Linked DNA regions of Homo sapiens. The protein of the gene in region 2 purifies or fractionates together with the protein of the main gene of each other region. This does not show direct contact. Each region holds a gene or a part of one and is shown on either strand. Other genes may lie near its edges. The genes, in order: KCTD10 and ADAP2.

What was found.
Region 1: the proteins of ADAP2 (region 2) and KCTD10 purify together in Homo sapiens (affinity purification with mass spectrometry; 3 studies listed by BioGRID and IntAct, with this or other methods). This does not show direct contact.

Annotation. Positions count from the first base shown.
Region 1 is NC_000012.12:109,448,091-109,453,372, forward strand, and holds the end of KCTD10 (BTB/POZ domain-containing adapter for CUL3-mediated RhoA degradation protein 3), read right to left. Parts: exon of another isoform or gene 3,724-5,282; coding exon 3,505-3,723; 3' UTR 565-3,504; downstream 1-564. UniProt on the Homo sapiens protein: Substrate-specific adapter of a BCR (BTB-CUL3-RBX1) E3 ubiquitin-protein ligase complex. The BCR(BACURD3) E3 ubiquitin ligase complex mediates the ubiquitination of target proteins, leading to their degradation by the proteasome.
Region 2 is NC_000017.11:30,917,675-30,924,980, reverse strand, and holds the start of ADAP2 (arf-GAP with dual PH domain-containing protein 2), read right to left. Parts: upstream 3,037-7,306; 5' UTR 2,967-3,036; coding exon 2,873-2,966; intron 2,042-2,872; coding exon 1,911-2,041; intron 1-1,910. UniProt on the Homo sapiens protein: GTPase-activating protein for the ADP ribosylation factor family. Binds phosphatidylinositol 3,4,5-trisphosphate (PtdInsP3) and inositol 1,3,4,5-tetrakisphosphate (InsP4). Possesses a stoichiometry of two binding sites for InsP4 with identical affinity.

The DNA.
Region 1 (5,282 bases), on a different chromosome or scaffold from region 2:
TTTTTGATTTAATTAAATATACGTGTAGCTCATGTATTTCACAGTTTAATATGAGAAGTGCTTTGGTCTTTATTTAGAAATTGGGTGATGTTTTTGTGCCCAGCAACATGCTGTAGGAATTTAACTCTTGTTTACATCCATTAGCCTCATGGTTTTGCTTCAAGTCTCAGCTTCCAAGAACCTATCGATGACTTACTGTGCATGGTCTGAGACTAAGTAAAGGAAATTTCCTAAAGCTGTGAAATTTGAATTTTGCTTTAAATAAATGGAACTCACATGTGTCAAGGGATTGGGTTTGGTGAACTGAAGCCCTCTGCCCCATAATAGCAAATCAGTGGTAACACCAGCTGATTCACTTTTTCATGAGCCAGGCAGCCTTTGACCCCAAGACTTCCTTTTGGTGTTTGAATTCAAACAAACACTACAGAAACATGACTGTCTTTTCCCTTCCACCTGGAGCGACTTTAAGGGGCTGAGGCAGAACGTGGGGGCCCTGCCTTTGTTGTAAACCGATTTTAGGGGCCTGGTTATGCCGGGCATGCCTGAAAAGAGCCAGAAAACAGAAGCATTTTATGACTTTTATTTTACATGTCGCCAACGTTTGTACAACATACAGTGGCTACATCTAAAACTTTGAGCATTTTTTTATGGCGCAAAGAGACAGAAAGGTTAATGACACACTTAACTGTTACAGTGACTTTGGGTAGGGCCCTAAAGACAGCACACGCTCCAGAGGGCGGGCTGAGTGTTGTTCACACTTGGGTCCTGAATCGCTGTTGTAAGGTACAGAGACACACTTTAACTGGGGAATGGGGTCCCCACACAGTGATCGCCCCACGGGAGGGTGACAGAATATGCCAGGAATTGTCTTGGACATGGGCCCCAGTCACCACAATCAGATGGCTTATTTGAAACAAACAAACAAAAAAAACCCTTGATTACGACACACCAAAGCTGTTCCAATTTGTAAAAAACTGTAGTTATTACATTGCAATGAAATCTCTTTACCAAATCTTGGGCCAGTGTTTTACCTGGATAGTGCTTACATTATAAATATTGGTTTTTGCCCTTAGTGCTAACATAAGAAAAATCAGTTCCTTGTATACTCAATAACAGAGCTTGGACCAGCCAATGCTGTCTATTCACTCATGGCTATAATGCAGCCGACAGAATTGTTCACCATGGAATGTTTTATAAACCTGTTCATATTCCAGAGAGACAAAGACTCAAAACTACAAGTGCAAAGTTGGGTAGAGAGAGCTGCCAGAAACACTAGCTCATTAGGCATAGAGGCCACAGCAAATCAAATTGTTCCACAAACTCATTCTTCACACAAACATTTAAAACACTATGCAGCCAGGTGTGGTGACTCACACCTGTAATCCCAGCACTTTGGGAGGCCAAGGTGGTCGGATCACAGGGTCAGGAGTTCAAGACCAGCCTGGCCAACATGGTGAAACCCCATCTCTACTAAAAATACAAAATTAGCTGGGCATGGGCTGATGGGTACCTGCAATCCCAGCTACTCGGGAGGCTGAGGCAGCAGAATCGCTTGAACCCAGGAGGCACAAGTTGTGGTAAGTGGAGATGGTGCCACTACACTCCAGCCTGGCCAATAGAGCAAGACTCCGCCTCAAAAAAAAATTTATACAATGGCTTTTCCATTTTCCTGGCCAACATTCACTTCGACTTTCTAAAAAAGCTCAACCCAAAAGAAAGACAGGGTTGGTGTTTAACACTTAAACAGTATAAAATATTTACGAAACATTTTGTAAGCCCTCTTTCCTTAGCACTTAATAAAATCCAAATGGCCTAATATAAAAGTTTCTCACACGACAGTTTAAAAAGCATCTGCCCAATACACGATTTTGACATTCAGTCATGATTGTTTTAAAGTTTTATTGTAGACTTTGCTGTTGGATACAAAATGAAGGCATACAACTGTCACAGGCAGGGCAGTAAGTACAAAGTCTAAGCTGTAAAAACCGTTTGAAAATATAAACTCGTTTTTGGAATACATGTGTCAAAGGCTGCCCATGTTAATACCTTTGGTATAAAACGGTAACGATTCCCTTGACAAACCCATCCATCACCTGACGCACATTCACATCTCCTGGTAACTACTCTACCTAGTCTAGTCTCAACCACCCCTGTCAGTCACGACTCACTCCTGTTCCTTTGCAGGTGCAGAGGAGCCTGGGAGGTAGGTCACTGAGAACACCCGTCCTACATAGGCGCTGCGCCCAGCCGGGCTCCAGCAGGGGCCGCCACCTGTGCCCCACAAGCACACGTCCCCACCCACAGTCACACATATCCCTTAAACAAACATGAACACAGACACAAACCAGACCCAAAGTTATCTATCTACCCGCACATCCTCAACCTGTTCACTGCTGGCCACTCTACACTGTGTAAAAATCAGAGGCAAAGACAAGGGGGTCTGTGTTTATAGCAGGGAAGCTCCCTGGGGCTGGTGGTGTGAGGGTGTCCCTGCCTGGATGCCAGGCTGGGAGGACAAAGGGTATGGGCCACACTGAATTTCTAAGCAAAATGACTTAGAAAGTTAGCCCAGCTTCATGGGGAAGGAGGCTGAAGAGGAGCGGGATCCCAGGGAGGGGTAGTTTATGAGCTATGCCTGTCACAGGGTCAGATGGCCTTCCTGGAGTGGAGTCGGGTCAATCAGGAGAACAACTGGACGGGGCTGGAGTTGGGGAAAGAACCAGAAACAGAGCTGGACACTTACTGCCATGGAAAGTTCTGCTCCTACGCAGACATATGGGGTCCCAGTGAGCACCAGGCCAAAGACCAGCCCAAGGTGGCAAAAGGCTTGATCCCTAAACAAAGCCTTGCACCCAAAGTTGCACTGGTCTCAACGATTTAGACGCTCATTCAGCCATATTTCCACTGCCACAAGCTGCAATTATCAACAAGCTCTAGGCCCAAAGCCACATGGCAGAAAGCACGTCTAGCAAAGCAGTGGGGATTGTGCCCGGGCCAAACACACAGGAACCAGGAGTGGACCTGCTGGGGCTGGAGGATTATGAAATAGGAAGCAGGGAGCTCAGATACCTCTGGTGGCCTCCAACTGCAGGACAACTCTCAGAATTGTCAAACTGAACCCTTAAGGGAGTGTCACCCAAAAAGCCCACATAGGAAGTCGACACCCACAAAAATAAATATTGCAAACAAAAGTTCTCACATACACTTCACACTCATTCATACTTTTCCTCTGAGAACCGAGAAAGCCTGGCTCCAAAGAGTCTCAGATTCTCATGAAAAGTAGAGATCTTAGACACAGCTTGTTCAACGACAGGGGTCATACGCCTGGGTCAAGACAATCAATTTGCCTTGTCAAGCAATACCAAAATAATCATCTGGCTTGTTACAAAAGTATCTCCAGGCTCCAAGGGAAGCAGAAGGGGCCCGGCAGCCTGCACAGGATCTGGGTGTAGCACGGCAGGGAGTGGGGGCGGTGAGAGGAGGGCGGCTCGGTCTCTTGCCTGCTCACTGGTGGAGGTGGGCCCGGTCATCAGGGCGCTTGATGTGGATCCTCCGCACGCGCTCGATCCGCTCCCGCTCCTCGTCCTCGTCCAGGTGGTGGGAGCGCCCCGCCGCCCCGCCTGTGGCCTCCAGGAGCGCATTGTCAGGTCCCCGGCCATCCTGGGCCTCATACAGCAAAATGTTCAGGGTCTCCTCATAAATCCGGGCTTCGGGAAACTCCACCTGTGTTCCCACAGTATACAGGGCAGGTAAGTTATGGCCCACCCCCTCTGCCAACACCTGGACTTTAAGCAGGGCCGCCAGGCTAAATCAGGCCCCTGGGATTCTGCTGAAGGCCACCAGTATTATTTTTAAATAAACTGATATTTTCAATGGCAACACTTACATGTGGTGCTAAATGCACAGAAAATCAAGGGGATGCAGAGAAACAGGTCTCCCTGCCCCTAGTTTCCCTTCTTAAAGGTACAGTTTCTCATCATTTTACCCTCTCAAAGATTCTGTGCATGTAAATATGTGTAATACACATATTTATTCACACACTTCAAAAAACACACAAGGTGGCCCACCACACAGAGTTGTACATGTCTTCCTCTTGTGCCTAACTTAACCTAGAGATCATTCTGTATCAAGGAATTATAAATACGACAATGCAATTAACCATACTTGGATGGCCATTTAGGTCAGTGCTAATATGCTTCTCCTAACAGAGCTGCAACCTTGCACAGAAGTCCTTCCACACCTTAAAGCAGTCTCTAAAGCAGTTTTTTGTACAGGGTCCAGCTGGGGACTCCCACGAAATGGGCATGAGCCCTTCTGCTGTTTGGCAAATCATTGTGTTTGCTCATTGCCCTTCAGGGTTAAGGTGTGATGAACAGGAAGAGGGCCACATAAGCAGGTCCCACACATTTGATCAGACTAGACTCCACTTTCAGGGTGGAATTCGGAGGTTCTGGGAAAAATGGAGCAGGCACACTCTACCCCGTCTTCCTCACTGACACTACAAAGCCAGAATGGGATGCACACAGCAGCTAACTGTGGACTCAGAAGTAAATCATGGCAGGCAGATGGGGGAAACAACAGAATTTGGAGTAATGCCCAACAGTGAGTTTACTGTTTGCTGCTGCCAGCACTGATGCAGCCTGAAACCCTGAAATGGCACCAGGACAGAAGACCTCCAGAAGGTCTCTAGTGGCCAGGGAGGCCAACAGAGTCTAACAGGCAGAGAGGCTGGGAGGAAATCCTGGTTTTCTTTCCTTTTTTTTTAAAAGATATGGGATCTGGCTAATTAAGCTTTAAAATTTTAAGACTTCTCATTTTTAGAGCTTAATAAGGAGCAAGGGGATTTAGAGACCACATGGTCTGATCCCAACTGTTTCTTGATTCACAGACCAGGTTCAGGAGTGGCGTGTTCTTGTGTTTGTGAAGCTGGTTAGGGGCAGAGCCAGGACGGGAGTCCAAGGGCCTCTTTCTTTTCTCTTTTTTGTTTTGAGAGGGAGTGTTGCTCTGTCACCCAGGCTGGAGTGCAGTGGCACAATCATAGCTCACTGCAGCCTTGAACGCCTAGGCTCAAATGATTCTCCCACCTCAGCCTCCCCAAGTAGTTGAGACTATAGGCATGCATCACCATGCCCAACTAACTTTTTGTAGAGATGAGTGTGTTGCTATGTTGCCCAGGCTGGTCTTGAACTACTGGGCTTAAATGATTCTCCCACCTCAGCCTCCCAAGTAGTTTAGACTACAGGCACACACCACCATGCCCAGCTATTTTTTAAAAAATTTTT
Region 2 (7,306 bases):
GAATCGCTTGAACCCCAGAGGCAGAGGTTGCAGTGAGCCAAGATCGCATCATTGCACTCCAGCCTGGGCAACAAGAGTGAAACTCCGTCTCAAAAAAAAAAAAAACAAAAAAAACAAAAAAGAAAATATAACATGGGAGTTATAAGGTGCAAATAAAATCCTTCAGGTTTATGTGCTGGTTTACTGGTTTCCAGCCTTTCTCCCACACTAGAATGTAAGCTCTGTATGGCCAGGGACCTTATCTTGTTCATTGTTCTCTCCCAAGACCCAGCACTTAGTAAGGTCACACTAAAGCCTCCAGTCCGGTGCTGTCTAGCACAGTACCTGGCACAGAGTAGGCATTCAGTAAATGTCAGCCTGCTTCCCCAATAGTCCTGGAAACCCTCAGCCAACCCGCACAGTGCAGAACTGCCTGCTCTCTGGAGGTTTTCTGACCAAAATGGAATTACCATGCAGGCTGAGGGTATCCTCCACCCCCAGAGGGCAGGAGAGCAAAGTGGTCCTCTTTCTGCCTAGGGGGAAAGGAGGACTTTAGACCACAAATCAGGTTATTTCCCTTCCCCCAGTCCAAGACTTCACTAATGATAACAGCAACTTTTTTTTTTTTTTTGAGGTAGGGTCTCACTCTCACCCTGGCTGGAGTGCAGTGGTGCGATCTCAGCTCATTGCAGCCACACTCTCACAGGCTCAGGTGATCTTCCCACCCCAGCCCCCGAAGTATCTGGGACGACAGGCGCATGCCATCACACCCAGCTAATTTTTGTATTTTTTGTAAAGACGGGGTTTCACCATGTTGCCCAGGCTGCTCTTGAACTTCTGGGCTCAAGCAATCCACCAGCCTCAGCCCCCCAAAGTGCTGGGATTATAGGTGTGAGCCACCACACCCGTACAACAGCAACTGTTAACTGACAGCTTTCTTTGTGTCTGGACTGAGCCTACAATCATCTTCACAACAGTGCTGTGACATTGGTGGTAGTGGCCAGGCACAGTGGCCCACGCCTGTAATCCCAGCACTTTGGGAGGCCGAGGAGGGTGGATTACCCAAGGTCAGGAGTTCGAGACCAGACTGACCAACATGGCAAAACCCCGTCTCTGCTAAAAATTAATACAAAAATTAGCGGGGCATGGTGGTGGGTGCCTGTAATCCCAGCTACTCAGGAGGCTGAGGCAGGAGAATTGCTTGAACCCAAGAGGCAGAGGTTGCAGTGAGCCGAGATTGGCCGTTGCACTCCAGCCTGGGCGACAAGAGTGAAACTCCGTCTCAAAAAAAAAAAAAAAAAAAAAAAAGGAAGAAAGAAAAAAAGAGAAATGGTGGTGGTATCCCTTGAATACAGATGTGGAAACTGAGGGTCCACAGCTAGGTCAAAGTACCTAGCTCAGGGCCTCCCAGCTTATAGGTAAGCAAATGATGGCCAGGAGCGGTTCAGGATGGTTCAGGCCTGTAATCCCAGCACTTTGGGAGGCTGAGGTGGTGGATCGCCTGAGGTCAGGAGTTCGAGACCAGCGTGACCAACATGGTGAAACCCCGTCTCTACTAAGTACAAAAAAATTAGCCGGGTGTGGTGGCAGGCGCCTGTAATCCCAGCTGCTTGAGAAGCTGAGGCAGGAGAATTACTTGAACCCGGGAGGCAGCGGTTGCAGTGAGCCAAGATTGCTCCACTGCACTCCAGCCTGGACAACACAGCGAGACTCCGTCTCAAAAAAAAAAAAAAAAAAGTAAGCAAATGATAGAGCCAGAATTTGAACTCTCGGCCTCTGTCTAAGCTGCCATCTTATAAGCTGTGTTTCCTCTAGCTAGACTTGCCCCTCTCTGGTTCTCAGTTTCCCCCTCTGTAGAATGGGAGCCCCCTGCCCGCTGCCTCTACTCCAGTCCCGCAGTTCCATGGCTCTCCACGGGCATGCCTTTCTACCTCCACAATACTGTCGTCCCAGAAGTCAAGTCGCACAGATTTAACTCTGCTGATGTCAGGGAAGTTACGGTGGACGCCGCAGCAGTTGAGACAGATGAAGATCCCCAGCTTGTAAGAGGCCCAGTCGGGATCTGCAGGGGATGAGGCAGGAGAGGAGCTGAGCGGAAAGCGCGGTGAAGAAACCAGGGCTGGGCTCGGGGCACTGGGGCAGGTGGGGCGCCCCTTCTCCCACCTAAGGCGAACTAAGCGGCCAGCCTGGCACCTTCTGGTTAGCCCACCGGCCGCTGCGCGGCGACCGGGGTGAAGATCCTGGAGGCAGTTCAGGGCCCGGGGAGAGAGTCTGAGGCTGCGCGACGTGGAAGTGAAGGGACTCAGAAGGAACCGAGAGGAGGGCGCGGGGGGCGCACCGCGGGGCTCGGCGCGGAGCTGCAGGTGGGGAGGCTGAGTTAGGGGGCCCTCGGCGTCCCCGAGGTGGGGCGCTGGGGAGGCCTTCGGGGGGCGTCTGGGAGCGGGCAGGGGGCACAGGACTGTCGGCGGCCTGGGCCCGACGTTTAGCCCTGGCTGGGATGTCTGAGTCCGAGGGCGTGGGGCGCGCCTGGGTGCGCAGACATCGAGAGCCCGGACTCGGGCGGTCGGGTGCCTGGCCAGGGAAGAGAGCGGGACTGGAAGGGCTCTAGGCTGCCGGCTCTCGTGTCCGGGTCCAAGCACGTGGGAAGATGCGCATCTGGTCCCGCGAGGGGAGCAGAGCCTGGGCTCGTAGGGGCCGGGGCAGGGTGTGGTGGAGACGGCCCTCGGGGCTCGGGTGAGAGGTTCACGGTGTGGGTGGGAGGGGTCGGGGCCCGCAGGTGCCACGTCTGGGTCCAGGGGGCCGAGGGCGGGACCCGGTGGGGCCGAGGGGAGGAGTCGGGTGGGCCTGGGGTCCGGCCGGGGGTCTCGCGCTGCCCGCGCCGCCGCGCCCTTACCTGCCGCCCCGCAGTCGGCGCAGTGCGCGTTGCCTGTGTCCGGCGCCCGCAGCAGCTCCAGCAGCCGCTTCTTGTTGCGCTCGCGATCGCCCATGGCCGGCCCGGCGGGCTCAGCGGGGCTCAGCCCATGGCCCGTGCGCTCCGCCCGGCAGGTGGAGAGGGACCCGGCCGCGGCGCCTCAGCCAGGCCTGGGCAGCCGCCAGCCCCGCCCCGCACCGTCAGGACTGTCCGCCCCTCCCTCGGCAGGTCCAGTCCGGCCCCGAGCTCCGCCGACGCGCGGGGAGGGACAGGAGCACGCAAATTGGAGTTTAACACACTGGCCTGAGATCAAATCGTGGCCTGTCACTTGGTAGCTACGAGACTGTGGACAACCTATTCAACCTCTGTGGGTCTCAGTTTCCGCGTCTATGAAAGAGGAACAAGGGCATATGTCTGCATCTCAGCGCTTCTTGGAAAATTAACCAGAATCTAACTTCTGTTAAAGCGTTCTGTTAATGTAAGATCTTACATCTATTTGGAGACGTATTTATATGCAAATGCCACCTCCTCAGGAAGCCCTCTGTGATACCCTGCCTGGAGTAATCTTTCCAGCCTCTGGGTCTCCAAGAATACTCTTGTAGTATCTGTCTATTTGTTTTGGACCTGAGCACTTTCTATCTACCTTGCATCACGGTTATTTATATACTTGTGTTAATTCCACTCTCTGACCGCAGACACATACACATGTCCACACCAGGGAGTTTGACGTCAGCAGTTTTATGTCTGTATTCCATATTGCTCCTATAAATGATACCTGCACATTTTTAGAAGTCCAACTAATAGTTGCATGATTTTGTTCACCAGAAAAGTGTGGTTTCACCAAGGTGGACACAGCCAGGCACTTTAACCTGTGAAGTTCCATCACCGCGAGGTGAAGGCAGGGTATAGGTGGTCTTAAATGTGGGCATTTCATTTCCTCTTTCCCTCTCTCCCATCTTTGTTACTGCTTGACATCATCTTCGTTACTCCTTGACATCATCTGCAATGACTCATGGGCCTCCTGGTGAAATATATACTGTACATACTTGCCATCTTCTATGTAGGTTAATACCTTAATGCACACAGATGCATTAAGCCATATGCATATGATAGACAGGTGTTAACCTTCAGGATAAAATCAGGTTTCCATCCTGGTGAATTGCAGCTGATGTTCTAGCTGACCTGCCCACACTCCCATTCAACATACATGCGGGCGCAAGCACACACGTGCACACACACGCACAGCAATATGGTGTAATGGAATGAATTCAGGAATCCAGAAATTCAGGCTTTAAATGTTGACTCCTTCATTTCCACATTTCCCAACTGTTTGTCTCTGGGCAAGTTCCTTCACTTCTCTGAGCCTCCAAACCCTCAACTGTTAAATGGAGAGCGTAAGATCCACTAATAGGGTCATTGAAATGGCACAAAGAAACCCTCCAAACATGGTGGCCTCCTTGCTTCCCCTGCCCCTATGGTCAGCTTGTGGAATTGTCGCTTGGAATGCTGTGTGTGATTCCCGTCATCCCTGGGGTGGAGGAGGTCAAGCTGCCAGGACTGAGCAGGAAGGGAGGGTGGAGAGTATTACCAAGAATAGCCAGCCATGAGGGGGTCTTGCCTGTGAGGGGGTGAGGCCTAGCCCAGGAGCAGCCACAGAGGAACCAGTGAGAGAGTCAGCTGGGGTCAGGGGGCATGGGGCTGTTTATTAAACCGGCTGAAAGATGATTCATTTCCGTTGCTTTAGATGAAAAAAGGGACAGAAATAAATCTCCCAGGAGAAAGATGGGAAAGTCAACTTAAGGTATGAAGGCAAAGGAAAGAGGGAGAGAGGGAGAAGAGGAGACAAGCTAAGGACATTTCTCCTCTGCCCAACACTGGGACAAAATTGTGATGCTGGGGGTGCTTCCTCGGCACCCGAGCCTTCACCAGTCTGTGCTCCTTTGCTTCTCTGACACCTTAGGTCTCACTGCCACCTCCCTGTAGGTCCCACAAAAGCCAACCCAGTTCTAAGTAGGCTCTGGTTGAATCTCAGAAACTTTAAAAAAAGCCGGGCGCAGTGGCTCACGCCTGTAATCCCAGCACTTTGGGAGGCCGAGGGGGGCGGATCACGAGGTCAGGAGATCGAGACCATCCTGGATAACACGGTGAAACCCCGTCTCTACTAAAAATACAAAAAAATGGCTGGGTGTGGTGGTGGGCGCCTGTAGTCCCAGTTACTTGGGAGGCTGAGGCAGGAGAATGGCATGAACCCAGGAGGCGGAGTTTGCAGTAAGCCGAGATCGCACCACTGCACTCCAGCCTGGGCGACAGAGTGAGACTCTGTCTCAAAAAAAAAAAAAAAAAATTAAAAAAAAAAAGAAAAAGAAAAAGAAAAAAAATAGCCAATCCAAGAGAACATACAGTATCTCATTCATAGTGAGGAGCCAGAGATTGAGAGATTCCTTTAGTTTCCCCTCTTCCCTTCCTTATTTCTGGAGGTTCCCATCAAACAGCCTTAATGTGGCATTTCAGGCATCCTCAGAGCAAAACAATGTACTCTGGTATTTTGTTTATAATGCTTTCTTTTCTTTTCCCTTCTTTTTTCTTTTCTTTGTTTCTTTCTTTTTTTTTTTTTTTTTTTTTTTTTGGTGGTGGTGGTTGTAGGACAATGCTAATGAACAATTACTGAGTGTTTTTTTTACAAGAGCGTCACACATTTGATCATATTTTAGCTTCATGACACCCTCAGAGGGCAGCATCACATCAGGCCACTTTACAGAAGAGAAAGCTGAGCCTCAGAGGATTTAAGTTACCCAAGGTCATGGAGCCAAATAAGAAGCGGAACAGGGCCTAAATCCAGATCTCCTACTGTGGCTCAGTCAGTCCCAGGTGATTTCATGAAACCTCCCTTTAGTGCATTCTGGACTTTTTTTTTTCTTTTTTTACTTAAATTGTGGTTCGGTTAATAAGGTTGCTCCAAAAAAAAAACAAAAAAAAAAAAAAAAAAGAAAAATATATATAAATTAAAAAATTGTGATAAAATCTAAACACAAAATTTGCCATTTTAACCATTTTTTTCTTTAGAGACAAGGGGGTCACTTTGTCACTCAGGCTTGAGTGCAGTGGTACAATCAGAGCTCACTGCAGCCTTGAATGCCTGGGCTCAAGTGATCCTCCTGCTTCAGCCTCCTGAGTAGCTGGGACTATGGGAACGTACTACCAAACCTGGCTAATTTTTTTATTTTTCTATTTTCACAGAGACAGAGGCTTGCTTTGTTGCCCAAGCTGGACTCCAACTTCTGGCTTCAAACAATCCTCCAGCCTCAGTCTCCCAAAGCTTTGTGATTACAGGCATGAGCCACCATGCCCCACCCATCTTAATCATTTCTAAGTGTACAATACTATGTCATCGATTGCATTCAATTATATTCACAATGTTGTGCAATTATCCCCACTATTTTAACAAATATTTAATTGACAAAGAAAGATTGTATATATTCAATGTGTACATGATTTGACATATGTGCACATTGTGTAATGATTCCCACAATCGCATTAATGAACACATCCATCCCCATCCATACTGCACCTTAGATCCCCAGAATTCTTCTTATAATTGAAAGTCTGTACCCTATATTTCCTCCACTATTTATTTCCAAAACTTTTGCATCAACCTAAACAGAAACTGTAGCCCCGGTCTGGGCAACACGGTGAAACCCTGTCTCTACAAAAATTACCAAAATTAGCTGGCTATGGTGGCACATGCCTGTAGTCCCAGCTACTCAGTAGGCTGAGGTGGAACGATCGCTTGGGTCCAGCAGGCAGCGGTTGCAGTGAGCCACAATCACGCCACTGCCCTCCAGCCTGGGCAACAAAGCAAGACTCTGTCTCAAAAATAAAACAAAACTCTGTAGCCCACTCCTGGATACTGGACATTATGAAAATTGAGCTCAGCTTCTGTGCTCAGGACCCAGAAGCTACTTCTAAGTGAAGAGGACCATGCCAAAGGCTGTCATGACCAAGGTGGACACTGAGCACTGTGACCCAGAGTTTGAGGGACAGGATGGGTCAAAGCAGCCTCTCTAAAGGGCTCAGTCAATACAGCAGATGCTGGAGTGAGGGAGCAATTTGGGCTGTGGGACAGAATGTCCTTTGTAAATAAAGCTCCCAGGGTCCCACCAAGAAGAAACATCTAGCCCTGTTCTCAGGTCACTGTGTTTGTCCAGCCAAGCCAAGCTGCAGCAGGGCTGGAAGAAAGCCCTCAACCACATTCCCAGTAACAGCCTCAAGGTCCCCACTCAAGATCTTCAGGGCATAGAACACAATTCCTTTGAAAATTAAATAATTGGCTGGGCACAGTGGTTCACACCTGTAATCCCAGCACTTTGGGAAGCCGAGGCGGGCAGATCACCTGAGGTTAGGAGTTCAATACCAGCA